Linked DNA regions of Homo sapiens: all the other regions are reported to be linked to region 1. The links are microRNA targets in miRTarBase. Many come from high-throughput screens and were not tested one by one. Region 1 holds a microRNA gene; each other region holds the end of a gene's coding sequence.

Evidence for each region. Region 1 holds the annotated microRNA hsa-miR-126-3p (UCGUACCGUGAGUAAUAAUGCG, at 4,636-4,657, shown strand). A microRNA usually pairs through its seed, bases 2 to 8, with sites in the 3' UTR of a target mRNA and lowers its output. Matches are read on the target gene's strand: a 7mer-m8 pairs with bases 2 to 8, a 7mer-A1 pairs with bases 2 to 7 and ends in A, and an 8mer does both.
Region 2: the mRNA of SLC41A2 is a reported target of hsa-miR-126-3p. Seed matches in the 3' UTR shown: 8mer at 5,715-5,722.
Region 3: the mRNA of RBMX is a reported target of hsa-miR-126-3p. The part of its 3' UTR that is shown has no 7-base or 8-base seed match.
Region 4: the mRNA of L2HGDH is a reported target of hsa-miR-126-3p. Seed matches in the 3' UTR shown: 7mer-A1 at 5,605-5,611.

The regions. Positions count from the first base shown.
Region 1 is chr9:136,666,018-136,673,138 of GRCh38, forward strand. It overlaps MIR126 (microRNA 126), which reads left to right and starts at 4,585; the gene lies at 4,585-4,669. It overlaps EGFL7 (EGF like domain multiple 7), which reads left to right. Exons shown (of 11, transcript NM_016215.5): 4 at 2,224-2,345; 5 at 2,540-2,656; 6 at 3,589-3,704; 7 at 3,897-3,992; 8 at 4,152-4,313; 9 at 4,933-4,997; 10 at 5,909-6,071; 11 at 6,247-6,661. The coding sequence starts at 2,266. The coding sequence ends at 6,269. RefSeq lists enhancers at 3,416-3,917, 3,918-4,417.
Region 2 is chr12:104,798,656-104,805,776 of GRCh38, forward strand. It overlaps SLC41A2 (solute carrier family 41 member 2), which reads right to left. Exons shown (of 11, transcript NM_001352171.3): 11 at 3,146-6,682. The coding sequence ends at 6,497. Among named protein-coding and RNA genes, the nearest start is that of SLC41A2, 160 kb to the right of the region's middle.
Region 3 is chrX:136,867,872-136,874,992 of GRCh38, reverse strand. It overlaps RBMX (RNA binding motif protein X-linked), which reads left to right. Exons shown (of 9, transcript NM_002139.4): 9 at 541-1,532. The coding sequence ends at 851. Among named protein-coding and RNA genes, the nearest start is that of SNORD61, 7.8 kb to the left of the region's middle. RefSeq lists an enhancer at 1-985.
Region 4 is chr14:50,240,472-50,247,592 of GRCh38, forward strand. It overlaps L2HGDH (L-2-hydroxyglutarate dehydrogenase), which reads right to left. Exons shown (of 10, transcript NM_024884.3): 10 at 1,963-6,782. The coding sequence ends at 6,587. Among named protein-coding and RNA genes, the nearest start is that of SOS2, 12 kb to the left of the region's middle.

The DNA.
Region 1 (7,121 bases):
CCGGGAGAATGGGCCCAGCGGCCCCGGGAACCGGCTCCCCCTGCCGGCGGCGGGCGGGCGGGCGGCGCGGCGGGGAGGGCCGGGGTCGCCGCGGCCCCTCGTCCGACCCGGCGCGACTCAGCGCCTCGGGGCCCAGCCTGTGCCGCCTGCTCCGCCCCCCGCGAACCCCGGAGCCAGCAGCGCGGCTGGGAGGGGGCGGCGGGCAGGTCCGTCTCGCTCCGCCTCTGCGCCCTCCCTCGTGGGCCCCGCGGTCCCCAGCCCTGCTCCCGCCGCGAGGGGTCCGCCAGTGCCTGCGGCGCAGCCAGGCCCCTCCCTCTGCGGACCCGGCCTCTCGCGGGTGGGGGCTGCGGGGCTGCTGCCGGGCAGGTGGGGAGGGAGCCCGTGGGCGCTGGGGGCACGGGGACCGGACTGCTGGTCCACCTGGCGCCGCCGCCCCCTCCCCGCCCGGCACCCCTGGGTCGAGGCCGTGGCCCCCCCCGGGGAAATGGGGCTTGCAGCACCGGCTCGGAGAGCACCACGGGCTTCCTCTGGCCTCGGGAAAACATGACTTTCAAAAATTGAGTCTCCACTTAGCACCGCTTCCTGTCCAGGCGACTCTCAGGAATTGTGGGGGGGAGCTGTGCCAATATGTGTGGGGGGCAATGAGGTCTGGGAGATTCGCCTACCCCCAGGCCCGCCCTGGCATCCCCCTGCCCACATCAAGCCGCCGGGCCGCTGCCCTACCTCTTCCTTCCCGGGTCCCACTCCCCAATGTCCCCCGACTTCGAGTCTTGCCTTGAGGTCGCACCAGACCCAGCCCCTAACAGTGTCCTTCATCCAGGGCCCATCCCCAGAGTTAATCTCCAGCCAGCTCTGCCCCCTCGACAAACTCCTGCCCAAAAACTGCTGTGATGCCCCCCCTGCCCCCAAGCTAAGTCCCCACCCCTCAGCTGCCCAGGGCAGCCTCTGCCTAGTTGGCAGCCTCTGCCCTGCCCTCCTCTCTCCAGCGCACAGAGGACTGGAGGCCCAGGAAGGACCCCCAGCCACCCTCCCCGCTGGGACCGGGTGATGCCTTGGCAGTGCCCGTGGGAAGCAGGTGTGGGATCGTGCTCCACACCCAGTGGGGCTGGCCAGCAGCGACTGAGGACAGTGTGACTATTTATAGGACTGGCTGTCAGAGCTGAGGAGGGGCCTCAGAGACCCTATTCTAGTGTGTGAGGAAACTGAATCCCAGAGAAGGGACAGCCTTACCCCAGCCTCTGCCCCGACCCGAAGCCTGGCCTTTCCCTGCGGAGGGCCCTGCAGTGCCTCGGAAGGAACCCACCCAGCCTTTGGGAAGCACCCGTGAGAGGCCCTGGGTGGGACCCTGCAGCATGGCAGGGGCTCGCCAGGTCTCCAGACCCCTGGCTGCGCATAGGACAGAATCCCCATCCCCGGCATTGCCACAGACCATTAATTCTGGGCTCTCATGCTCTCAGGAAGCCTCACCCGGGCCCCTGGCTCCTGCTGCACAGCCAGGAGGGGGTTGGATTCCGGTTCCGGTGACACTGTCGGGGGCTGCTCCTCACCCCCAGGTGTGCACCTGGCACAGCCACTGTCCCAGGATCCCTGGAGGCTGATTGCACACATATCCCAGCCTGGGAAGGACCCCCTCTAAAATGAAGGCCGCCCCTCTGGTGGTCTTAGAATGTGTGCACCCTCCGCACGGTTCCTGCTGGCTTGCAGCTGCTGGCCCACCTGCTGGGGCCGGTTCCACACTCAGATGAGAAATCAAATTCCAGAAGGGCTGAGGCCGGCAGGTCCCTGGTGGGGCTGGATCCCAGCTCTGCCCACGAACACCCCGTTTGCATAGACTGGGGTGCAAACTCACCCCTGCCCTGCTGTGAGGAGGGCCCTGGAACCAGGCAGGACAGGAGAAACGGCCACCCGTAGCTGGAGCCATCCTTCCCGGAGCCTCGGGCAGATGCCCAGCAGGATCCACTCGATTCCTGCACCAAGAGCTCTGGACAGCGTCACCCCCCCTGTGCCCCCAGGCTGTGGCCCCAGCTGTTTGTGCCTGGCGAGGGTCTGGCTAGCTGGAAGAGGGGGCCAGCGGAGGAGAGAGTGGGCGCCACCGTGGGGCTGTCCCACCGGTGGAGGCTCCAGCGGAGATGAGCTGGGCAGGCCTCGCGGAGCAAGTGCAAACTGCACCCGCGTCCTGGGGGCATCTGCGGGGAGACTTAGGGGTCATGCTTTGTGCCCCAGGCCACCCAGAGGAGAAGGCCACCCCGCCTGGAGGCACAGGCCATGAGGGGCTCTCAGGAGGTGCTGCTGATGTGGCTTCTGGTGTTGGCAGTGGGCGGCACAGAGCACGCCTACCGGCCCGGGTGAGCCAAGCCCTAGCCTGGGAGTGCTGGGGTGGGGGGACCGGGAGCCCTCAGCACCTCCTAGAGGCGGCCCTCAGCACCTGTCGGGGACTCCCTGGGGGCTCCTGCTGAGGGTCCTGCCCCGGCCACATGTTCCCATCATTCTTGGGTCCTGCTCTGGGACTCCTGGGCTGACCCCCTCTCCACCCCCGCAGCCGTAGGGTGTGTGCTGTCCGGGCTCACGGGGACCCTGTCTCCGAGTCGTTCGTGCAGCGTGTGTACCAGCCCTTCCTCACCACCTGCGACGGGCACCGGGCCTGCAGCACCTACCGGTGAGTGCCCCACCACACCGAGCTCACCCAGCCCCAGCCTCCCAAGTCGGCCACACATCAGCATGTCAGGGGCGAGGCGGGGGTGAATCCTGGGACCCAAGATGGGAAACTGAGGCCAGAGCCATGAGAGGGCTGCCTGAGATGGGCGACCCAGGGCGGCCGGAGCCAAGGGGTTCCACGATCACCTCCAGTGTCCTAATCCTTGCTCTTGCCCCGACACGTCTCAAAGGACCGCACCTCTAAGAGCATCCCCATGTTTAGAGGGGTCACCCATCCTGTCTGCACCCCTCCACTTCCGGGGGACTAACCCCTCCCTACCCTGGCATCCCTGGCTGCAAGTTCCCATATACACAGAATGGTGCCTGACTCCCCTGGTCCCACTCCACTGGGCACCCCCCTCCACATGACGGCCCCCAGTGGGCACAGATGAGACCCTGAAATGTCCTGTATGCCCACACAAGGGGCACACACCCCTAAGTCTCAGAGTCCTCCTTCCTGGGTGTGGGAGCTCCACCCCCTGCTGGGGGAGGGGCCTGGGAATTCAGACTTCTGGAGGTTTAAGAAGGGCTCCGATGCCCAGGGCCCACACTCTGCCGTGACTCGCCGTAGGCCGGGCACACCCTCTCCTCTGGGCCTGGATGCCCCCACAGTAGGAGACCAGATAGGTGGGGGCACACACAGGCCTGGCCACTGCCTCTGCTCCATGCGGAGTGTGGCTGGGCCTTCCTGCTGTGGCTTGAGTCCCGGCCAGCACCGGAAGGCCCAGGCAGGGAAACGGCTGTGCAGTGACCCCTCAGTGCCATCCCTTGAGGAGAAGACCCTTGGGGGCATGCTGGGGTGACCCTGTGCACTCTGAGAGGGGACTCTAGATGCCCAGCAGGTGACTAAGGGGGAGTAGGATGCCCCTCTGAGCTGTCCCACCCACCCCACAGAACCATCTATAGGACCGCCTACCGCCGCAGCCCTGGGCTGGCCCCTGCCAGGCCTCGCTACGCGTGCTGCCCCGGCTGGAAGAGGACCAGCGGGCTTCCTGGGGCCTGTGGAGCAGGTGAGGGCTATGTCCCTCGGCGCCCGGTGTTAGGAGGGCGACTGTTCCCCAATCTTCCAGCAACGCTCCTGCTGCTTTTCTTGAACCCCGAGCAAAGCACCACCTTGCCGCAGAGCACCCACTCCCTAGCAGCTGCCCCCACAGGGTGCTGGGGACCCAACTGAGCTGGTGACCAGCCTCCCCCGCCCACAGCAATATGCCAGCCGCCATGCCGGAACGGAGGGAGCTGTGTCCAGCCTGGCCGCTGCCGCTGCCCTGCAGGATGGCGGGGTGACACTTGCCAGTCAGGTGAGGCTGGCTCTACCCTGGGGGGCCCTGGAAGGGTCCTGGGCACCTCCTTGCATGTCCTGGGGTTACTGCTGGCCCATGAGTGGGTGGTTGTGAAGGGAGCTGTGTGGGCAGGACCCCTCCCGCAGGCATGGCCGCCTGACACCCCGTTTCCTGCAGATGTGGATGAATGCAGTGCTAGGAGGGGCGGCTGTCCCCAGCGCTGCGTCAACACCGCCGGCAGTTACTGGTGCCAGTGTTGGGAGGGGCACAGCCTGTCTGCAGACGGTACACTCTGTGTGCCCAAGGGAGGGCCCCCCAGGGTGGCCCCCAACCCGACAGGTAAACAGCCCTGGCTGTGCCTGGCCTGGGGAGGCGGGCAGGCAGTGGACATTGCCGTGTGGCTGTTAGGCATGGTGGGGGGCACTGGAATCTGGGCGGAAGGCGGTGGGGACTCCCTCTCCAGGGAGGGAGGATGGGGAGGGAGGATAGGTGGGTTCCCGAGAACTGGGGGCAGGTTGCCCGGAGCCTCATATCAGCCAAGAAGGCAGAAGTGCCCCGTCCCGGGGTCCTGTCTGCATCCAGCGCAGCATTCTGGAAGACGCCACGCCTCCGCTGGCGACGGGACATTATTACTTTTGGTACGCGCTGTGACACTTCAAACTCGTACCGTGAGTAATAATGCGCCGTCCACGGCACCGCATCGAAAACGCCGCTGAGACCTCAGCCTTGACCTCCCTCAGCGTGGCCGGGACCCTGAGCCTCTGCGCAGAGCCACCCGCCCCGACGTACTTAGGCGGCATAGCCCTGAGACCTCTGGCCAGCGCCAGGCAGGCAGCGGGGGCGGCAGAGGCCTGGGCCTGAGTCTTCTGGCTCTGCCTCTCCCTGGGGACAGGAGGGAGCCTGGGGGTGTGGGTGGGGAGCCGGCCGGCCGTGACCCAGCGCCTGGCTCTGCCCGCAGGAGTGGACAGTGCAATGAAGGAAGAAGTGCAGAGGCTGCAGTCCAGGGTGGACCTGCTGGAGGAGGTGAGGCATTGGTGGGGGGGGGGGGGGGCAGGCAGTCCAGGGTGGACCTGCTGGAGGAGGTGAGGTGTGGAGGGGCAGGCAGTCCAGGGTGAACCTGCTGGAGGAGGTGAGGCATCGGGGGGGTAGGCAGGCAGTCCAGGGTGGACCTGCTGGAGGAGGTGAGGCGTCGGGGGGGCAGGCAGTCCAGGGTGGACCTGCTGGAGGAGGTGAGGCGTCGGGGGGGCAGGCAGTCCAGGGTGGACCTGCTGGAGGAGATGAGGCGTCGGGGGGGGAGGCAGGCAGTCCAGGGTGGACCTGCTGGAGGAGGTGAGACGTCGGCAGGGGGCAGGTCTTCACAACAGCAGAGGCCCAGGCCCGGGTACAGGCTCCGTAGTCTCCTGGGACATGGTCCCGACCCACGGATGGCTGGGGGTGGTCTGAAAAGGTCCTGGCCCTGGGGAGGTGGCTTCCTCGCTGCTGACTGCCGAGGGGGCCCTGGCCTGGATCCATGCTGGGCAGAAGCAGCTGGACACTGACCAGGACCCCCCAGGGCCGGAGGAACCAAGCTTGACAGCCCCCCAGACAATACACAGAGCCTGGACCCAGACGAGACCTCCCCACCCCCCCATCTTTGTCCCCACCAGGACAAAGAGCTCTTGCCAGTCTTCCCACTGGCCAGTGGTCCAGCTGTCCCCCTAGTTCTCCTGCCAGGGACCCCAAGGCTGGGACCACCCCGCCAGCCTGATGCCCCAGGCACCCACTCTGCGGCAAGCTTTTCTGCCACGGCAGCCCCCTCTAGTGGACACTTGGAGCCCTGCCGCGGAGGCGGGGGCTGGAGGCTTGTGGAGCCCTTCCCAGGGGTCCTCCCTAGACCCCGGTGGAGCAGAGAGGGCGGGGGCCGGCCCAGGGTCACTGCCCTTCTGCACCCACAGAAGCTGCAGCTGGTGCTGGCCCCACTGCACAGCCTGGCCTCGCAGGCACTGGAGCATGGGCTCCCGGACCCCGGCAGCCTCCTGGTGCACTCCTTCCAGCAGCTCGGCCGCATCGACTCCCTGAGCGAGCAGATTTCCTTCCTGGAGGAGCAGCTGGGGTCCTGTGAGTGCCCCCACCCTCCAGAGCCCTCCTCCCGGGTCTGGGCCCAGTGGGCCTAGAGGGGCTACCCAGGCTTGGGGGTCGGGGGCGACCAAAGGCCAAGGGGCCAGTCAGATCTAGCTGGGCGGGGAGGCTGTGGGGAGCAGTGATCTCTGACCTTCGCCTCATCCAACCCTAGGCTCCTGCAAGAAAGACTCGTGACTGCCCAGCGCCCCAGGCTGGACTGAGCCCCTCACGCCGCCCTGCAGCCCCCATGCCCCTGCCCAACATGCTGGGGGTCCAGAAACCACCTCGGGGTGACTGAGCGGAAGGCCAGGCAGGGCCTTCCTCCTCTTCCTCCTCCCCTTCCTCGGGAGGCTCCCCAGACCCTGGCATGGGATGGGCTGGGATCTTCTCTGTGAATCCACCCCTGGCTACCCCCACCCTGGCTACCCCAACGGCATCCCAAGGCCAGGTGGGCCCTCAGCTGAGGGAAGGTACGAGCTCCCTGCTGGAGCCTGGGACCCATGGCACAGGCCAGGCAGCCCGGAGGCTGGGTGGGGCCTCAGTGGGGGCTGCTGCCTGACCCCCAGCACAATAAAAATGAAACGTGAGCTGCTGTGTCAGTGGATGGACTGGGGGCCTGGGAGGAGGGCGCTCACCTCCTGGCCACCCCTCCCAGACCCACTGCTGGGTGCCAGCTGGCAAAGGGGGCCTGGTGGAGCGGGCAGTCGTGGGGTGGGGAGGGGGTCCAAGGCAGAGGGGGTGGGCAGGTGGTTTCTGTGAGGCCACAGAGAGCTTTGTCCTGGGGACATGTTGGCCCCAACCAGAGGCCAAAGAGCAAATCTCTGGCCTCCTTCCCAGTAGCCTGAGGATCCCGGCACACTTGCCCGTTAGGCGACACCCCCACCCATCGATGGAAGTAGTATAGGGTGATGTGGGTCCACTCCTGGATAGGGAACACGGGTGGGTGGCGGTGCCTGCACCCTGGGCCTCTAGGCAGGGCAGCTGGGAAGACACAGCGTCGCCTCCACCGCCCTGGTCACCTGCCCGCCCTGTGAGTGACCACAGCTC
Region 2 (7,121 bases), not on the chromosome of region 1:
GTTAAATGAATGGCTATTATTTCACAGTGACCTGCGATCCTGTTTTGATCAAGTATTTTGAACTTTTTGGCATCTTTGGCAGGCTTCTCCAGGATCAACATTCTAAATTAAATCTTTTTGACCTAGAATTAACTTCAGGATTTTCCATGTGGGCCACTGGAGAGCCTCAAAGGATGTATCTTTCATCTTGTAGAGATATTAAGTGACTAGGCTTGTTTGTACGGGAAGTATTGTCAAATGATAAGTGATGCTAGGTTTTCTTTCAGTTACATTTATGGGTATGTTATTGATATGAATGTCCCCAACTGTACAAAACTCTTAGAAATCTAATATCTTATTGGCCATAATTCTGGTTATTATATTGTATGCCATAAAATAACCAAATTTCCTTGTCAATTGCTGATTGTAATGAATCAAAGTCAGATTCTTAACCATGGCTATTTTAAGTCTCTGTCATTCACAATTATTGTTTTGATTTTTCTCCAAAAGCATTTGCAATTAGTTTCATGAAAAATACTCTAACAACTACTCTTAAATACAGGTTTCTAATAACTGTAAGATCAATGGACTACATAAAAAATTTTCAAAAATTTAATGAAGAAACTGATGGGTTCATAAAACAGATAAGATCAAGCAAAACAAAAATTAATTACATGAGATTAAGTAACTGATGAAGATGTTTTTATGTTTATTTGAAACATTATTGGTTCTTAAATGTTTTATTTTCCAGATTGAAGGAACTTTTTTTTTCTTAGTTATCCATAGTTTACAGAAATTTGGTAAAGTGTACTCGTGTGAACAAAGATGGAAGCAATTGCTTTTCTACCTACTTGATGCCTCCAAAATGTGGGAACTATTCATGGTTATTTGCATAAATTCAGTAAAAATCTGCTTTCTATAACTGGATACAATGAAAATACTGGTTATATTACCAAGGCTTTGAGTGAAATAGATTGGAGAATATGCATAGAATACCTGACTTCAAGGGTTCTCAGCCTTACGGTGAATAAAAACTCACTTCCTGGCAGGCTCAGGAGCCTTAGGACTGTAGGTAACATCTAAAGTCTTCCTTAGTTTGGTTTCCTAGCCTCAAGAGGTTTTTAAATCTGAGATTCCTGTGTGATCAACATAGGCAGAAATAGTTATATTTATAAAGAAAAAGCTATAATACATCTGCTATTAGATTATAGCTCTGTGCATTGTTTTCAGGTTCTTATTTACCTATAGAGTAGACTAGATCCTGAATTCTTTTATATTCCTTTAATCCAACTTTCTTCCATGGAATTACTAAAAACAGGAACTGCTCTGTTCCTAAATCTCTATAAGCTGAAATGATAAATTTTAAGGAACAAGTCTTGTGCCTGATGTATGAGCCACACAAAGAGTTCACCAAACTGCCTAATGCCATAACCAGAGACATTCAAACTGCAAACAGGATAAGAAATTGACATTTTCATGCTGTAGACAGCTTTTCCCAAGATATTGGCACAAGACTCTATATCATAACAAGACCCTGACCTCCCTTACTGCTACCTTTTTCACTTGGCTGGATAATGGTGTAAATTTCTTAATCAGTAGCTTCTGCCAGTAACTAGACAGAAACTAATCTAAAAGATTCCTTAGCCCACTTATTGGGTGACTTTGGCAACATCCTTAATACAATTGGTGCTCACCTTTTGCTTTAATTCAACCCAGTCATGGGATACTAGATGATAAATAGCTCTATATTATTTACTGGCTAAATAAGAAAATTTCTGTGCTATTGCAAATATTGCATGCTGTACCCGGATAAATCCCTCTGGGAAAGTTGAAACCCATATAAGCAAAATAAAAACATAGCCACATGGTTACAACAGGTCTTACCTAATTCCCTATGGTCATTTGTTTCATTCAAATAGTTGTCTTTAAGCCTAGATTCACAGCTCAAAACCATTATGCAAACAGGGATTTTCAAATTACTATTATTTCCTTTTTAAAGTTTGCACTATTACTTGTTAAATTTTTGCAGAAGTAGAACTCCTAACAGAACAATGCTGGCCCAGCACTTTGAGATAACAGCAAACGACTATGGAACAGAAAAAATTGAACTTAATAATGGACTCCAGGTAGACTTAGCCTGAGATCCACTCCCTTCAAACCTCCCTTGTTGCTCAAACGTGGATAATAGGGTTTTGACACGGACTCCTAGCCACCATTCACTTTCTCTAACATAGGACCAGATCAGCAACCCAGGACGGGCCCATCCTGGCATCAGGAGCTATCAACACCTGAATACAGGATGATTGGTCAGTGATGCTTTTGGAGAAATATCTTGATCAAAAGGGGGAAATGTGAAACTTGTCAGAAACATAATGGAGTCACTTGTGTTAATAAAACTCTGACAAATAGAGCCAGAGAAGGCCATGAAGAAAGGTTTCTCATGCATAAATGCCCAGTAACAAAAACCATCACAAAAGACTCTGCAAAAACCACAACCTTGTACAATGGCCATTGCAACCTTACACACAAAAAATACTTCTGTGAGAATATCCGCCCAGCAAACACCTGTTCAACCTCAGACTGGCGTTATGCTTGCTGTCGATCCTTGTAGCCAAGGATAATTATCTCAAAATAATTTGTAATCCTTCTTTAAAAACCTCCTCCTTCCTTTACCTCCCTGAATATGCAGGTAGTTCATATGCAGTGGGAACACTGTGGCACGTGTATTCCCATTGCAATGCCTATTCCTGAATATCATTTTCTTTTAGAAACCTTCTCTCTGTTTACTATTTAGGTTGACAACAAGTTTGCTTTCAGTAAAGTGCTGGGGACAAAGACCTGTCTCTCAGAAAGTAAAGTCATTAGAGAAACAGAGTAGGTTGCTGGGCAGTTGGGGGTTAACTTGATGTCTGAGGTTATAAATTTAAAGATCTGTCAGAGGAGTTGTGTGTTTTTCATGAGCCATATTGAGCACTCAGGTACAGGCAAAACACAGAGAGCTGTCTTTATCCAGAGTTTGTATTCTGTCCTGCCAGCATGAGAGAGGCAGTTGCAGATGTATGGACTGATGAACCAAGCAATGTAAGCTGGATAATGAGAGGAGTGAAGAAATGAGGAGAGTATTTGACAGTCAAAAAGTAGTAAAGCAATGCATTGGAGGTCTAGATATGGTCAAAGCCCAATTTATTATAATTCATAAATATCATATGTATACATAAATTACCCCAGTCTCTTCTGGGAGATTTCCACACTGGCTTGATGTTCTCTAGTTCATCAAGAAGTAAGCATAACAAGACTGGATAATTATTTCTTAAATTTTATTCTTTATTTGAGTTTAAAACAATTCGAAGATGGCAGAACCCCGTTATAAATGGGTACACTATACCATAGATATAAGGCAAGGAATCCCAATTACTGATTTTTTTGAATGGCCTTTATTTGGCTATATCATTGATAGTCTATGGTGTGGAATTTTTGGACACCTACCAGAACACATATTACCATAAGTTTCCATTTTATCAGGTTCTAAGAAACTTTATTTTTGAAAGAAAAAAATGGACAAGAAAGAAAAATGTTTCTAAAAGTGTTATCTGTGTATAAATAAAGTGGCTGATAAATTAGTGAAAAGGAAGAAGTTTGGAAAGCAGAAGTTTTTATGTTGTATAAAAAGAAATACAGTGAATTCACATTACTTAAGACTGATAATAGATTATTGTTGTGGGTAAATGAGTCATTTTATCTGTTGCATACTTACGTGAAGGCTTTCAAAAGGTCAGTAATAATTTAAAGGAATCTACATCCCTTTTATAATCGGCGAATTGGTGACTAATGTTTTTATTTTTTTCTCCTGTTACATGCCTTTTAGACATTTGGTTGCTCTAACCAAGGTTGGGTAGCAAAAGAGAAAGGAGACAGAACTCTATCAGTCATTGTATTTATTTACCAGCATTTATGGCAAATGGCCAGACCTGGGCAGGGTGGTAGCAATGATAGATTTTACAAATTAAGGCATTGTTCTTTATTTCAAAATTTTCATTTACCTATATTTTCCTTGGTCTTAGAAATATGAATAATTTAGAGCTGGCAATACTCACCATCAGGATATAATAAACGGAGGTTTCTTTGTCTGAAATCCATAAAATGTAGTAATACTCTATTGTACTTTTAAAAATCCTATTTTTGCAGTTGGCTTCCTCTCAGTGAATTAGTTAGGTAGTTTTGGTACATTTGGAGGGTCATAAACATGTCATAGAAAGAGTACTGGCATTATGAAAACCTGGATGTTAGGGACTTCACAATTTGGTCATTTTGCAGCTGTACAACCTTAGAAATGTAAGTTCTCTGAATTTCGGTTTCCTCTGCTGTAAAATAGAGATAGGAATATCCATCTGATATATTTCACAGGTACTACTGTGAGTATTAAATGATATTGTGTGTTTGTGCACTGGAATGTGTAATATAATAAAGTTGTTGATTAATGCTTTAAAAATGTAGCTTGCCCTGTATATTTTTTAAAAATCAAAATAGAAATCATTGGGAAATGTAAATGTTTATGAATCTTACAGCTCAAATGCAAATAATTTACAAATGCTTTATAATAAAATCAAAGATATTCATGGATTTTTTTAAGTAAAAAATCTTTGCAGCTAAATATTCATCAACTTAAACTTATTCTTTCTTTTATAAGAATGTTCACTATGTAACATTATAACTCTCCAAAGGAGAAATTCTATAATTAGTTCAGTTCTCTGCCTTAAAAGTTTTATTATAAGGCAGAAGAATGGAATAATTGAAGTTTAAAAATAAGCAAAAATATATAACTCTAAACCACAGTCCCCTCATTTAAAAGAGCTTAACAAGAATACTTTCTGCAATATATTTATAAACAACCTAATATTTATATAATAACACAAAGTTACAACTTAAATCATGATGATCAAAGTTAATGTGCATTTTGATACCCTTATCAGCTTAAATTATTAAATATCTAACGGTCTTGAGAGATTGAATTTTAAAAAATGAACCACATGTACTTTAAAAATGGTTACCTATTCAATAACTAAGGTGTTGGTCAAGTGTTTAGAATATAGGCCAGAGTTTTAGAAAAATTATTTGAGAAATATAGTATATATGATTGGGTCCCACGTAGAAATAAGCCTGTACAAATGGATATGTTTAAGCATGAACAATAATTGAGGTAACCCACCAACTTCTTTTTTAAAAGCGTAAGTCAACGGGCTTCTTTAAAAGAGCAAATGAATCACTTGCTCATTTTAAATCTCCTATCTTGATTATATTAAATAGTACTACTTTTTAAAATAAGAAATTATTAATTATTAATTAGAGTGTAGGTAACAAATTAGCTGGGCGTTGTGGCGCATTCCTGTAATCCCAGCTACTCGGGAGGCTGAGGCAGGAGAATCACTTGAATCCAGGAGGTGGAGGTAGCAGTGAGCCGAGATCACACCACTGCATTCCAGCCTGGGCGACAGAGCAAGACTCTGTCTCAAAAAAAAAAAAAAAAAAAAAAAAAAAGAATATAGGTAACAAATAGTAAATTCTGGTCAGCAGCAAAATTTTTGGACCCAATGACAAAAACATGTTAATAGAATGTGTTTAAGAATAACTCTATATTGCTGATATTCCAACAGCACTATGATCTTTGCTATCAGCAATCCAAGATTTAGTTCTTCATCAAAAGTCTCTCTCTCTCACACACACACACACACACATTCTCGTACCGTCTTGTCTCTACAAATGCATCTCAGGTTATATTCTGTTTTTGAAGATTACATTTTTTAAAACACATCAACATTTTTCCAACAAATCAATCATCAAAAAATGACTCACTGCTTTCATTAACAATCTCTCAAGATCACTCAATGTTTAAAGATTAGCCTGACAAGAACTTGCAGAGCTGAAATTGAATTGGCATCAGAACAGGATAATTTTAGATGGAGGTAAAAGTGAGTTTATCTTATGCTCAGCAAAACATATTTAGGTCAGTTTAAATATGAGCAACTGGTAAATTTATCCTCAGCTAGCATAGAGGTGGGCATTGTTAATACGATTCAAAGCTTGGTTGGGCACTCTTCGTTTTATAGTATGCCTGGGATACAGCACATCTGTGAGACAAGAAAGGCTAAACTAGAGCTCTGCTTCTTCTAATCCTGCATTACAAATTTAATAATAAAGTACATTTCTGCTATGTTTGTGGTTTTAAAATTATTCACTGTAAACATCCTATATTCTTTCCTAATTAATTTCAGAGCTGGAACTTATATCTATGTCTATGTCAAATTATCATTTATTCTATGAAAAGCAGCACGAATACTCTTCATTCTGGTTTTGACACAAATTCCTTAAAAAAAAATTAAGGCCATTTAATTGAATCAGGGCCAACTGAAGATTACCCTGGCAAAAGTCAAACTACTGATTTAAGAGTTTTGAAAAAGAGCCATAAGTGGTTGTCGTGTATTTTCTTCCTTGGTAACTTGAGAGCAGTTTGTAGAATTTATTAGTCTCCAACATCTCCATCTCGATCTCCAATAAGCCAAAGAAAATGAAAACTTAAGGCTAACAGAGCTGTCCCGAGCAGATCACCCAATGCTGTTAGGTAGGGGATGGAGAAACTATCCGGGTCCTTTCCTTTCCTCCAGAAGTGATGGACCATCCAGTCAGCAATCCACAGCAAGGTAAATACCTAGAAGAGAACAACAGAGATTACTCCGGCTGCCTGGACATTCCTAGCCCATGAAACATGGCCACAAGCCTAAACCACTGGCTTCTGGAAGGGACCGTATGTGTCTAAGTCAAGAACCATGCTTGAAAATAAGAAATACTTAGATGACAAGAATACTTTCATTTCACAAGAAAAAAAACAGCATGTATGTTTACAGGTACTAAAATTTTTCTTCAACTTTTCATATAGATCTCATTCTAGCCTCCCAATAGCCATAATAATTTGGATATTTTAATAGCACTGTACAGTTTCCAAAAGACTGTTTTTCTATGTGATAAACCTGTGAAAAAGGAAGACATTATGAAGAAGGAAATAAAAATTTAAATAAGGAATTATTTAACAGTCTCCTGCTGCAGGTATATCAAATAAAGATGGAAAACTGACCATTCGTTTACTAATT
Region 3 (7,121 bases), not on the chromosome of region 1:
GGATGTTTGCTTGCTTTTAAAGGGGTAACTTTATCAGCTGGGCTTTTCCTAGTTTTGTGAGGGGCTTTTTTTGTTTTTCTAAGTTTCTTTTGAGGCTGTTTGCTTGCTTTGGAGGGGATTTTGCTTGCTTAAATTGGCAGCCTTATGTGTTTTCCCCCAACAGTGAAAATACAATTTAAAAATTTTATTAACAAGATCAAATATTTACCATTGCAATATGAAGGCAAGTTCTACAGTTCAAAATTGCAACTTATCACTGGAAAGTGGCTGAGTGTCTACTATAAAATAACAAGCTCTCTGGAATATCCTCTTGAAATACACACCGTCTTCAGTCTTTTCAAACAAACATTAAAATGAATCCAATTCCATATCTCAGCAGATGAGCAAATCCCTGTTATGGCCAGCAATGGCAGAGTTTAAAACCTCCCACCCAGTTGAGAAAGTAAACTTTTAATACAAGAATTCTGTAAATTCAGATTTAAAATGTTGTATATATACAATTTATAGTGTTGCCATATTACCTGACCATTGACCCTGCAGGTAACTCACGTAGTGCTCCACCTACACGAGGGCCCCCGCCATCTTATGGTGGAAGCAGTCGCTATGATGATTACAGCAGCTCACGTGACGGATATGGTGGAAGTCGAGACAGTTACTCAAGCAGCCGAAGTGATCTCTACTCAAGTGGTCGTGATCGGGTTGGCAGACAAGAAAGAGGGCTTCCCCCTTCTATGGAAAGGGGGTACCCTCCTCCACGTGATTCCTACAGCAGTTCAAGCCGCGGAGCACCAAGAGGTGGTGGCCGTGGAGGAAGCCGATCTGATAGAGGGGGAGGCAGAAGCAGATACTAGAAACAAACAAAACTTTGGACCAAAATCCCAGTTCAAAGAAACAAAAAGTGGAAACTATTCTATCATAACTACCCAAGGACTACTAAAAGGAAAAATTGTGTTACTTTTTTTAAATTCCCTGTTAAGTTCCCCTCCATAATTTTTATGTTCTTGTGAGGAAAAAAGTAAAACATGTTTAATTTTATTTGACTTTCGCATTGCTTTTCAACAAGCAAATGTTAAATGTGTTAAGACTTGTACTAGTGTTGTAACTTTCCAAGTAAAAGTATCCCCTAAAGGCCACTTCCTATCTGATTTTTCCCAGCAAATGAGGCAGGCAATTCTAAGATCTTCCACAAAACATCTAGCCATCTAAAATGGAGAGATGAATCATTCTACCTATACAAACAAGCTAGCTATTAGAGGGTGGTTGGGGTATGCTACTCATAAGATTTCAGGGTGTCTTCCAACTGAAATCTCAATGTTCTCAGTACGAAAAACCTGAAATCACATGCCTATGTAAGGAAAGTGCTATTCACCCAGTAAACCCAAAAAAGCAAATGGATAATGCTGGCCATTTTGCCTTTCTGACATTTCCTTGGGAATCTGCAAGAACCTCCCCTTTCCCTTCCCCCAATAAGACCATTTAAGTGTGTGTTAAACAACTACAGAATACTAAATAAAAAGTTTGGCCAAAACCAACCATGAAGCTGCAAAGGTGCTTGCTCTTACTGTTTCAAATTTTTGCAACTCTGTAGTGTCTCACTTTTAAAGGAACAGCTTGATTGCAAAGGAGAAAATAGATAAGCAATGAAGTTATCTCCAACTTCCTAAAGGCTTATGACTTCTAAAAAGTGAATCTATCAGCATTCCACATCAGATTTAAAGCATCAAATGCCTGTGAAACAGCAAAGATGGTAAGCAAAGCAAACTAGTTTTTCCGTCTAAGTCGAAATTGAACACTTACCTTCCTCATAGTACAGTGAAACATACTGTACCTCAAGGCAATGGAAATGCCTTCTAGATTAAAAAAAACTTTTGGAAAAAAGAAATATTCAATAGCGTATTAGAAGTCCTCCAAATTCAACACTTGGATTTTTTTTTTTTTTTTTTAAAGCATGTGTGACACTTAAAGGCTTTATTAATAGAGCTGTTGTTTACCAATGGCGATCTGGGGCTTGGGAGGGGGTATTTTTTTCAAAGTCCATTTTTGATGAAGACCTTTAAACATGCTTCGTATGTTTTTAACATTTTTTTCAAATTAGTCTTTTAGTCAATATAGGAAATGGCTTAAGTTTGGGGTCCCCCTTTTTACCCCTGTAAGCCATTGCAAACTTGACATTTAGTTGGATGCCTGACTTGTTTTTAGTTCTATGAAACTACACTGTATGGAGAAAATCTATTGCAAGTGGTCTTTAAAAAGCAAAACCTGAGGCAGCATGACCCAGGTCCAGCCATGAAGTTGAAAAAGATGCTCTTGAATATAGTAAACTTGAAGACCTCCAACTAAAAATCCTTATACTGCACTTATTCCTTCAAATAAGTTTTGTTCGTTCAACTTATGGATTTAACGTGGCAGTGCACCATTGGAACAGAATGACAATCCATAAGCCATGCAACTTAACAATTTAAGCCATTCCAGTCCATCCCGAGCCAGTGAATCTTCCACCACTTAAGACAAATAGTAGAACATGAAATATATTAAGCTGCAAGTCTGAACTTGCCTTTTCTTTCTGGAAAAGAGGGCAGTAATAGGCAAGTTTTAAAAGAATTTCCTTAAGAGAGATAACTAGTTTTCATTTATTTAACTTTTGCAGGTTGGTGATTTTGCTCATTATGGTCGTGGAGTGCTGATTGATTCACAGTAGATAAAGCTGGCAGTAAGAAATGCTAAGGTAAGTGTTGAAAGCAATGGCCTTTGAAGGTTTAAATGTTGTGTAACTACCATTTAGTTTAGCTGTGACATTGGCAAGTTATTGTGGTCCTCACTTCATCTGTAAAAGAAAACGCTGCTTGGAATTGATGAAGTTAAGTGCTTTAATGTGTAGTGCCTGACACATTCATTGTGAATTTAGAGTGAGGTTACATTTCCGTGAGTCTGGCTCATTCATGAGATTATTCTTAGCTATTTTTGAACCCATAAAGCTTGCTTATAGCTCTTCATATGCAAGCATTCTCAACAAGGAAGTACACACGTAAGAAGTTTGCTCAGCTGGGCACCATGGCTCGTGCCTTTAATCCCAGGACTTTGGGAGGCCAAGGCGGGCAGACCATGAGGTCAGGAGTTCGAGACCAGTCTGGCAAACATGGTGAAACCTCATCTGTACTAGAAAAAAAAAAAAAAAAAAAAACACCGGGCGTGGTGGTGTGCGCCTGTAATCCCAGCTACTGGGGAGGCTGAGGCAGAATTGCTTGAACCCAGGAGGCAGAGGTTGCAGTGAGCCGAGATCACGCCATTGCACTCCAGCCTGGGCAACAGCAAGACCCTGTCTCAAGAAGAGGAAAAAAAAAATTTGCTCAGTGCATTTTGTAAAAGGATATACTTTCGTTGTTACTAGTTAGTGCTTGCTCATTTGCATAGCTACAATACAAATTGACTAAATGTGGAGTTAATGATGCAACTGTGGCTGCAAGCTCCCTGTTTAACATAATTTTATTGACATTGACATAATGACGACATAGTATGTAATTTCAATATTACCTTTTTTTTTTTTTTTTTGAGACGGAGTCTTGCTCTGTTGCCCAGGCTGGAGTGCAGTGGCGCGATCTCGGCTCACTGCAAGCTCTGCCTCCCGGGTTCACGCCATTCTCCTGTGCCTCAGCCTCCCCCAGTAGCTGGGACTACAGGTGCACACTGCCACGCCCGGCTGATTTTTTGTATTTTTAGTAGAGATGGGGTTTTACTGTGTTAGGATGGTCTCGATCTCCTGACCTTGTGATCTGCCTGCCTCGCCTCCCAAAGTGCTGGGATTATAGGCATGAGCCACCGCACCTGGCCGCCTATGGTTGATTTTTTAAGCTTGCGTGGTTTTTTTTTTTTCTTCTCTTCTGAGACAGTTTTGCACTTGTTGCCCAGGCTAGAGTGCAATGGTGTGATCTCAGCTCACTGCAACCTCTGCTTCCCAGGTTCAAGTGATTTTCCTGCCTCAGCTTTCCAAGTAGCTGGGATTACAGGTGCCTGCCACTATGTCGGTTATTATTATTATTATTATTTGTATTTTTAGTAGACAGGGTTTCACTGTTGGCCAGGCTGGTCTTGAACCCCTAACCTCAGGTGATCCGCCCGCCTCGACCTCCCAATGTGCTGAGATTATAGACGTGAGCCACTGCATGCGGCTTTCTTTTTTTTTCTTTTTTTCTTTTTCTTTTTTTTTTTTTGAGATGGCTTCTCAACTCACTGCCTCTCAGGTTCAAGCGATTCTCCTGCCTCAGACTCCCCAAGTAGCTGGGACTACGGGTGTGCACCACCGTGCCCGGCTAATCTTTGTACTTTTTGTAGAGACAGGGTTTCACTGTGTTGGCCAGGCTGGTCTCAAACTCCTGACCTTGAGTGATCTGCCTGTCTCGGCCTCCCAGTGTTGGGATTACAAGCGTGAGCCACTGCGCCTGCTTGCTTTTTAAAGCAGTTACTTTTATTTTCAGCTAAAGCAACAAAAAAGTATATATTTAAATGATAGTTTGGGGGGAAGTACTTTACAGTAAAACAAATACTATGTAACAGGATCCCATGTTTTTCATTTTACAGAGTTGTTGAAGCAGAAGGCGGCTGATTGTCAATAAGTCACTACAGTTGCATAAGCAGTGCTGTCAGAATTGGTTTGGTGCAGGCAATAGATTTTGCCTTCAGGGGTTCCTGTGGATCTGAGGAAGGCATCAGTGTTGATTAACACTCATAACTAGGGAGTGACTGGTAGTTACTTAAAGCAAGTAATTGACCAAATGGAAAAGGGGAAGTAATTAAGGAAATTGGTAAGTGGAGGTAGTCAGGAAGTTCTTGTGGTTCTTCACATAGATTTTACAGCTTTGGCTTTCATTTTGTTTAGCTAAAGTCATGGGGACAACTCTTCAATTTAGAACTTAAGTTGAATTATAAAAATGATGGATATAAGTGGTAGCTGTATCTAGTGAAGTGTCTGTCAGTAAGTGAAACATTTTTTGGTGGTGGCTTATCCACAAACAGTTTAGTTGTAGAATAAAACTTATGAGTGACATCTGGAAAGTAACCATGCTAAGATGGCAAGCACACTGGAAACAATTAGGCCACTTGGCTTTCTTTTGCTGTATTGTTTTATAAGCCTACTTTACCTCCCAGTCTTGGAAACAAGTTTTAGTTTTTTATTGGTTTGGAGACTAGAGCCAATAGTATAATGTTCTCAAAGGAAACAGACTTGAGTTGTTGGATTAGAGGAACTAACCCAACTTATATGATTTTTTTTTTGTTTTTGTCGTGTAGTTATGGCACTGTCTTATTTGGAACATTTGCAACTAGGGATAATACAACATTTTTAACTCTCATTTGACAACCTACTACTAATCACAGACCACAAGGGTAATGACCAAATTTATGTGGTTTTTGCACTCCATAGTTGTCTTAGCCCAATCTTTCTATACTCTTACGATTACTTGGGTTAACGCTTCTGTGAGGACCTTCTGGCTCTTGAGATACCCTAAATATTTAAGATATTTAGATATCTTGAAGATAGTATAGGATATAGAGATTGTACCAAATAGGAATATAAGGAGTATGTTAAAATGACCAGATACCTGTTTGATAGTTTACTGACCTAGCAGATGTGTGGAAAAGGAATCAGATCTTGATTCTTCTGGGTTTATACTGGTTGTAAAACAGAATGATACAGAAAATGTTTTCCTTGTTTAACTGGTAGTTGAACATAGAACTTGGGTATTATAGATCACTTTTCACTTTTTGGAATGTTTTGTATTGAAACTTAATAAAACTTTAACATGGCATCTTTTTTTGTGGCAAGGGGCTCTTCTTTACTTAGAAATTAGGGGTTTATGTTTTTAAATGTTTTTCCCATGTCCCCCTCCCCCAAACACTACCTCTGTTGCATTGATGGCACTTAATCAGTTTTGCATGGGAATGTCCAGAGTCATTGAGGCTGTTTTTGTGACTAGGCCTCCTTTATTGAGAGTGAGCTTCAGGGGGAATGTAGATGACTTCATTCAGTCCTCACCCTAAAAGTTAAATGGAAGCACAATCACACACCTAAGAAGCAGAGGCTAAATAAACCAGGAGTCAACTGTAGTGCTTTTATGTAATTCCTGCTTACCTCTTGGGGAAAAACAGGTCAGCAACAACTCAGTTGTGGCTGTGGATTCCAAATACTTTGGGTCAAGCAATGCATGTGATAATATGCTTCTGAATTTGCAGTTTTCAGTTTCTCTGCTTTACCTAGTGTCCTGTATATATCTGACTAGTTGATGTTCGTTTGTGTCTAAAACTGGGCATTGCATTTGGGTTATGTAGTCAGTTGAACAGAACTCAGCACATGGAGAAAGAATGCAGCTAAGCATTAAGATGGCAGAGAAAGCCCTAAGTATTGTCATTCTGTAAATAATCTCAGCTCTACACCTGTTTTTTTGGGGGGGTTTATTAATGAGATGGAGTCTCACCATGTCCCCCAGGCTGGAGTGCAGTGGCACCATCTCGGATCGCTGCAACCTCCGCCTCCCGGGTTCAAACGATTGTCCTACCTCAGCCTCCCAAGTAGCTGGGATTACGGGCGTGCGCCACCACACCCAGCTAATTTTTGTGTTTTAGTAGAGATGGGGTTGTCATCATGTTGGCCAGCCTGGTCTTGAACCTCCTGAACTCAAGTGATCTGCCCACCTTGGCCTCCCAAAGTGCTGGGATTACAGGTGTGAGCTACAACGCGCAGCCAGTTCTATACCTATTGTTCCAGGAAAACATCTCTCTACTCATCCCGTCAATACTTTATGTTGCACATGTCAGTATACTTCCTGAAAAGTAACTTGAACTTTTGTATCAATTAGTTCAACTTTAATCAATTTTTAAGATAACATTTAAATCTGAAATACTCAAGTATTAAGGGTACTGTTTTATGAACTGAGAAATGTATACTCTATCAATGATGGATAATTACCATCATCTCAAAGTACTTGAGTTTTAGCCGTGTATACATCAGTAGTTCCATGTTGCCGAGTATGGTATGCTTTCCCATTCATGGAAACCTGGGCCTTTTCTGGTTTTTGGCTTTCATGCATAAAGTTGCTATAAATGTTCTCACAGTAGCTTTTGTTTTTGTA
Region 4 (7,121 bases), not on the chromosome of region 1:
TCAATTAGAAATGCTGGTAGAACCTTGAAATCCTCAATGTCGCATCAACTCTTTTAAAATAACATTTAACACTAGGCTTTTTCTTTAATTCCAGAAAACTTACCAAGTAATTCTGGAGAGAATTCAAAAATAAAAGTATATTCAAAAGTTCACTACCAACCACAAAATTCTAACATGCAAAGTAGAAGCAAAAAGCATCTTTATATCCCTAAATTCCAAAGCACAAAGTTGGATGTCAGAAGACAACCTTTTACTGTTGGCCTGTAACATAACCAACATGCTTGGTTCTGAGTATTTAGAAGGATCCAGGAGGTCCCAGCTGGAATGACTGATCAAGAATCTAAGAAAGGCTGGGTGCAGTGGCTCATGCCTATAATCGCAGCATTTTGGGAGGCCAAGGCAGGTGGATACCCTGAGGTCAGGAGTTCGAGACCAGCCTGGCCAACATGGTGAAACCCCATCTCTACTAAAAATACAAAAATTAGCCGGGCATCGTGGTGTGTGACTGTAGTTCCAACTACTCAGGAGGCTGAGGCAAGAGAACTGCTTGAACCCAGGAGGCGGAGGTTGAAGTGAACTGAGATCATGCCACTGCACTCCAGCCTGGGCAACAGAGTGAGATTCCGTCTCAAAAAGAAAAAAAAAGGGAAAAAAAAAGCATCTAAGAAAAACATAGGCAAAGGTTAAGGATCTAGGCATTCTGGGAAAGAGCAATTAGTACGTGGCCCCTGTGATTTGGGAAGCTACTCAGAGACCAAAACAACAACAAAAACCCAAACAAACTAAAGAACCTGCTATTATTATAAACTGATATCACAGCCAGGTGTGGCGACCCATGCCTGTAATCTCAGCACGTTGGGAGGCCAAGGCAAGAAGATTGCTTGAGGCCAAGAGTTCCAGACCATCCTGGGCAAAATAGTGAAACCTGTCTCCTCAAAAAAAAAAAAAAAAAAAAATTAGCTGGGCATGGAGATGCACACCTGTAGTCTCAGCTATTCAGGGGGCTAAAGCAGGAAGATTACTTGAGTATTTAGAAGGATCCAGGAGGTCCCAGCTGGAATGACTGATCAAGAATCTAAGAAAGGCTGGGTGCAGTGGCTCATGCCTATAATCCCAGCATTTTGGGAGGCCAAGGAAGGTGGATACCCTGAGGTCAGGAGTTCGAGACCAGCCTGGCCAACATGGTGAAACCCCGTCTCTACTAAGGATGTTGAGGCTACAGTGAGCTATGATCATGCCACTGCACTCCAGCCTGGGTCCTGGGTGACAGAGTGAGACTCTGTCTTAAAAAAAAAATAAAAAGGCTGGGAGTGGTGGCTCACGCCTGTAATCCCGACACTTTCGGAGGCCAAGGTGGGTGGATCACTTGAGGTCAGGAGTTCCAGACCAGACTGGCCAACGTGGTGAAACCCCATCTCTACCAAAAACATAAAAAATTAGCTGGGTGTGGTGGCGCGTGCCTGTAATCCTAGCTACTCGAGAGGCTGAGGCAGGAGAATCGCTTGAATCCAGGAGGCGGAGGTTGCAGTGAGCCAAGGTGGTCCCACTACACTCCAGCCTGGGAAACAGAGCAAGACCCCATCTCAAAAAAAGAAAAGAAAAGAGAAAAATAAATAAAAATTAAAAAATAAACTGATATCCCTAAAAGACATCTCTTATATTCCCAGTGGACAAATTTACAGAAAATTAAACCTGAAAGGCGTAAAAGAAACAACCACTGCTGTAGCCATTTCATTGTGCTTCAGAGCAACAAAGTTAAAAGAGGTTTTTCTAAAGATACAGTTTTAAGCAGAAGTTGGCTGAAATTCAAGGTTCTCTAGTGAGAGAGGTCCCTCTGTTATCATTGTCCCTCAGGTCTTTCCTAATATTCAAAATTGGGCTTCCTGAGCAACCCAAGACCTGCCATCTCTTGCCATATCTAAAAGGTAAATTTTCTCATTTTATCCCAGGGACAAAAGAAACTTAAAATAAGATAACTTTAATGTGAGATCCTTCCCATAAGCAGAAAATACAAGCAATTAACAACATCAACAACAACAACAAACCCACAATACTTTCTAGGATTTGAGGCCAGAAAAGTAGAGTTGGTTGGTATCAACACTGTTCTTCCCTTCAGGGCTTCAGGGTTTATTTCCATTCTTAAGCTATTTAATGAGTACAAACTATTTGAAAACATCTCGAGGCAGCTTTTGCTTTCCCAACCATTTCACCCTGTCCTTCTACCTTAAGCCCTGATGAAGAGATTTCAAAAACTCCCTTTGAGTGTGTTAGAAAAGCTTAGAAACTGACTTTACGATTACAACTCAAAAATGTTTACAAGATCTTTAGATAATAGTGTATGCGCAGAAAGATGAGGAAACCTCTGACCAAGAAGTCTAGACACAGATTAAGGGCCCAGGAGGGCAGAGCCAGTCCTTAAACAATATAGACACCATGTCTCCTGTGTTTACAGGGATAGCTCATAGGTACAGCCATCAGGGTTGGATTGCCTCCAAAAGTAGGCCCTACAAACTCCCGTAGGCCAGGGCCTGGCAGTATACCCCATTCTCACCACCATCCTTTGAAGAAAGTTCTAAGAGTTAAGGTTATCCCACAGGCTACTAGGTAGATTTCCAAATGGCCTCAGGGAAAGTGGAATTCTGCCAACAGTAAAGGCAACTCCCCAAACAGTGCTAATGCTGAGAGGATCAAGGGAAGGACTTTGATATACACATATATGTATGGATAAAAGAGTTAAGCTACGTAACATGAAACACCAAAAATATACTTGCTGGTACATCAAGAGTTCCTCACAAACACTCTGAAGTTAAAATCTAAAATGCTCCACTTTTTACCCAAAATATAAATGACTCAACCTCATTTTGTATTATATACTAACACAGAAATGAGTTTTTTAAAAAGGTTGGCTGCTATCTATCTAAAGCAAACAGTTTATGTTTTACACATAAAAAAATTTATTTGCATAAAAGTTTTTATGGAACTAAAAAATATGTTCTCTACAACACCAAGGCTCATTAAAATATTTTAAATATTAATATACATTTCTTCTGTCAGAAATACATAAAACTTTATTATATCAGTATTAAACAAAAAAACCCTATTGACATACATATAAAACGTTTTACAAGCAGAATAACCTACATATTCAAAACACTTTCAACAAATTTTTCATTTTTATTTTTCAGGGTATTTTATATATATATATATATATATATTGTTTATTATTATACTTTAAGTTTTAGGGTACATGTGCACAATGTGCAGGTTAGTTACATATGTATACATGTGCCGTGCTGGTGTGCTGCACCCATTAACTCGTCATTTAGCATTAGGTATATCTCCTAATGCTATCCCTCCCCCCTCCCCCCACCCCACAACAGTCCCCAGAGTGTGATGTTCCCCTTCCTGTGTCCATGTGTTCTCATTGTTCAATTCCCATCTATGAGTGAGAACATGCGGTGTTTGGTTTTTTGTTCTTGCGATAGTTTACTGAGAATGATGATTTCCAATTTCATCCATGTCCCTACAAAGGACATGAACTCATCATTTTTTATGGCTGCATAGTATTCCATGGTGTATATGTGCCACATTTTCTTAATCCAGTCTATCGTTGTTGGACATTTGGGTTGGTTCCAAGTCTTTACTATTGTGAATAGTGCCACAATAAACATACGTGTGCATGTGTCTTTATAGCAGCATGATTTATAGTCCCTTGGGTATATACCCAGTAATGGGATGGCTGGGTCAAATGGTATTTCTAGTTCCAGATCCCTGAGGAATCGCCACACTGACTTCCACAATGGTTGAACTAGTTTACAGTCCCACCAACAGTGTAAAAGTGTTCCTATTTCTCCACATCCTCTCCAGCACCTGTTGTTTCCTTTTCAGGGTATTGTACAGACTCAAATGGATTGAGGACTGCTTCAATTAGGACAATCATTTTTTGTAATTCAATGTTTACAACTTAGTATGTATGCAATCGTACTACTGACAAAATACAGAATGATAATATTTTCCATCTCTTAGTAATCTTGTAATGGAACAGAAAAATATCCTGTGTTTGCATTTCTTGCAGGAATCAGCTGTTATAAAGAAACATTAGGGCTTGTTTCTTCTGTCATTGATATCTGAATGCTTTTAATATACTCATCCTAAGAGTTGAATAATGGCCTACTCTGTTTACCTGGGATGTGCTACTTCTTAAACATGAGCTGATGAAGTGTAGCCTTTCAAATTAATGGATGAGGTAGCTCAATCAATGTAATCATCAATGCTTGAAGTGAGGGGAAAAGGAAGAAAACAGAAACATTTTTCCTATCAACCAAAATGCACATCCTTCTCACCCATCCATCATACAGCTTTGGAGAGCTAAGAGGAAAGAAGACATACACAGTAGAAGATGAATCCTGAGAGAGCAAATCAGAGAGAATGGATGAAAATGCCTCACCTAAATGTGGTTCAGTACTCAAAGTTCTGCAGTCAGGTCGCCACATTTTCATTTACAATTTCTATTTTCTAACTTTCTAAATTATAAGAATAATTTCGATAGATACCACAAAACACATATATACAGGATATACCACAGCACTGGGCATCAACTTAAAATACTCATGAGGTGAATGTAAGGCACTTTCGCGGTTTACAAAAGTGAATGCCTCAAAGTTAGATATTTATCAAAAATGGAAAAATATCCCTATACAAGTTTATAGGAGCCCTGAAAAATCAAGTACGTATGAATCATTACCAATCTTGGCCAACATTTTGAGAGCCTTAGTGTGACTAAAGATCAGAGATATAATAGATAAATAACTTTTTTAAATTGGAGTTCTATACATCAGTGTCAGGATTCTAAAACTGCTCTCATAAAAATCTGTCTCTTCTAAGTTATTTCAGTTCTCAGCCACAGAGATTGAAGAACAGGACAACCACTCAGTGTACCACTGTTTAGATTTCATGATGATACCATACCACATCAGTTACAAAGAGACTGGAAATAATAAAGGCTTTGAGTTTGTTTTGTTATTTCCTACAAATATTATAATTAAGATAGAAACTTATTCAAACTACTCAAAAATGTAAATTTTATGTATTTTCTTGAAATCATGAATTTTTAATTTCCAAATACAAATATTGTTGCTCTAAATAATGTGAGTTTTGTGACTCTTCAAAATTAAAAGAATGTAACCTACAATATAATGTATTTTCTTGTCTATGAGAGACCAAACGAGCTTAGGTAGCGTAATGCTAAAAAATTGATTTAAGGAAATAATCTATTTTTATGCCATCTTTCTCCAAAACTCTTAAAAAGCCAAATCTTCTCTAGGTCATGGTTGGTAAGGACAGGTCATTAACAAAGTCAGGGATTCAGGGCTGAGCATGATGGCTCGCACCTGTAATCCCAGCATTTTGGGAGGCTGAGGCAGGTGGATCACCTGAGGTCAGGAATTCGAGACCAGCCTGGCCAACATGGCAAAACCCCGTCTCTACTAAAAATACAAAAAATTAGCCAGGCATGGTGGTGGGCGCCTGTAATCCCAGCTACTCAGGAGGTTGAGGCAAGAGAATCGCTGGAACCCGGGAGGCAGAGGTTGCAGTGAGCCAAGATCGTACCATTGCACTCAAGCCTGGGCAACAAGAGTGAAACTCCGTCTGAAAAAAAAAATAAATAAAAGTCAGGGATTCGGACAGATAAAACTGTACCTTGCCTCTTTATTCGCAAAGTAAATAAGCATGGAATTTATTTTTTGTTGTTGTTTTTATTTTTTGAGTCAGGGACTCACTTTGTTGCCCAGGCTGGGGTATAGTGGCATGAACACAGCTCACTGTAGCCTTGATCTCCCGGGCTCAAGCGATCCTCCTGCCTCAGCCCCCAAGTAGCTGGGACTACAGGCACACACCATCATGCCCAGCTAATTTTTGTATTTTTTGTAGAGATGGGGTTTCATTCACTATGTTGCCCAGGCTGGATTTTTTTTTTTTTTTTTTTTTTTTTTGAGACAAGATCTTGCTCTATCATCCAGCCTGGAATGCAGTGTCATGAACATAAGCTCACTGCAGCCTAGACCTCCTGGGCTCAAGTGATCCTCTCACCTCAGCCTACTGAGGAGCTGGAACTACAGAGGCACCAGACCCAGCTAACTTTGTGTAGAAACAGGGTTTTGCCATGTTGCCCAGGCTGTTCTCAAACTCCTGGGCTACAATCTACCTGCCTTGGCTTCCCAAAGTGCTGGCCACGGCCCCCAGCCTAACATTTTGAAAATTATTATTATTATTATTTTCTTGCTCTGTCACCCAGGCTGGAGTGCAGTGGTGCAATCTCAGCTCTCAGCTCACCTCCGTCTGCTCGGTTCAATTGATTCTCCTGCCTCAGCCTCCTGAGTAGCTGAGATTACAGGCATGCGCCACCATGCCTGGCTAATTTTTGTAGAAAATTATTATTTCTATGTTACATCATTTTAACAATGCAGTGGTTATCTTTGACCTAAAAACTAAAGTTTAAAAACCATTTTTTAAATTAAAGAATGCAATTAGTACATTCTTGTTGCTGACATGAAGATTACAGTGCATACCTAGCTCCTTTCATTATTTATAATTCAAATCTTTGTTGTACTTCATCTGCAATCATTCCAGAAATTGCAATGGAAGAAGTAGCAGCAGGAGAAGGTGCATTTCTCACATGAAGAATGCGATTTCCAATATCCCCAACTCCTGCATCAAATACAAAATCTTCTACCAGATTTCCATCTCTATCCAGGGCCTGGGCTCTTACTCCAGCTGGGCCCCTGCAAAAGTAAAAGATGGGAGTCAGCTGACTCAAAGACATAGGATACTTTACAAGTCAGCGTTTCCAAAAAGTCTTAAAGCAATAAAGTATTCTTCTAAATGCACAATTATATGGAAACCCAATGAGTTTATGTTTAACCAAAGGCTGTCAGTTGTAGCCTGTCAAACCTATATTGTTAGCTTAGAGCCTAAAACCTATTACGTAACAATAGTGTAACAAACGCTTATCAAAGAAATACATAAAAACAAGTAAGTTATTTATCAATGTCTGCTCTTTCCAAAGGTAGTAGGTAAATCCACACTTAATTAGAACAGGTATATTTTTATTTAAATTTATA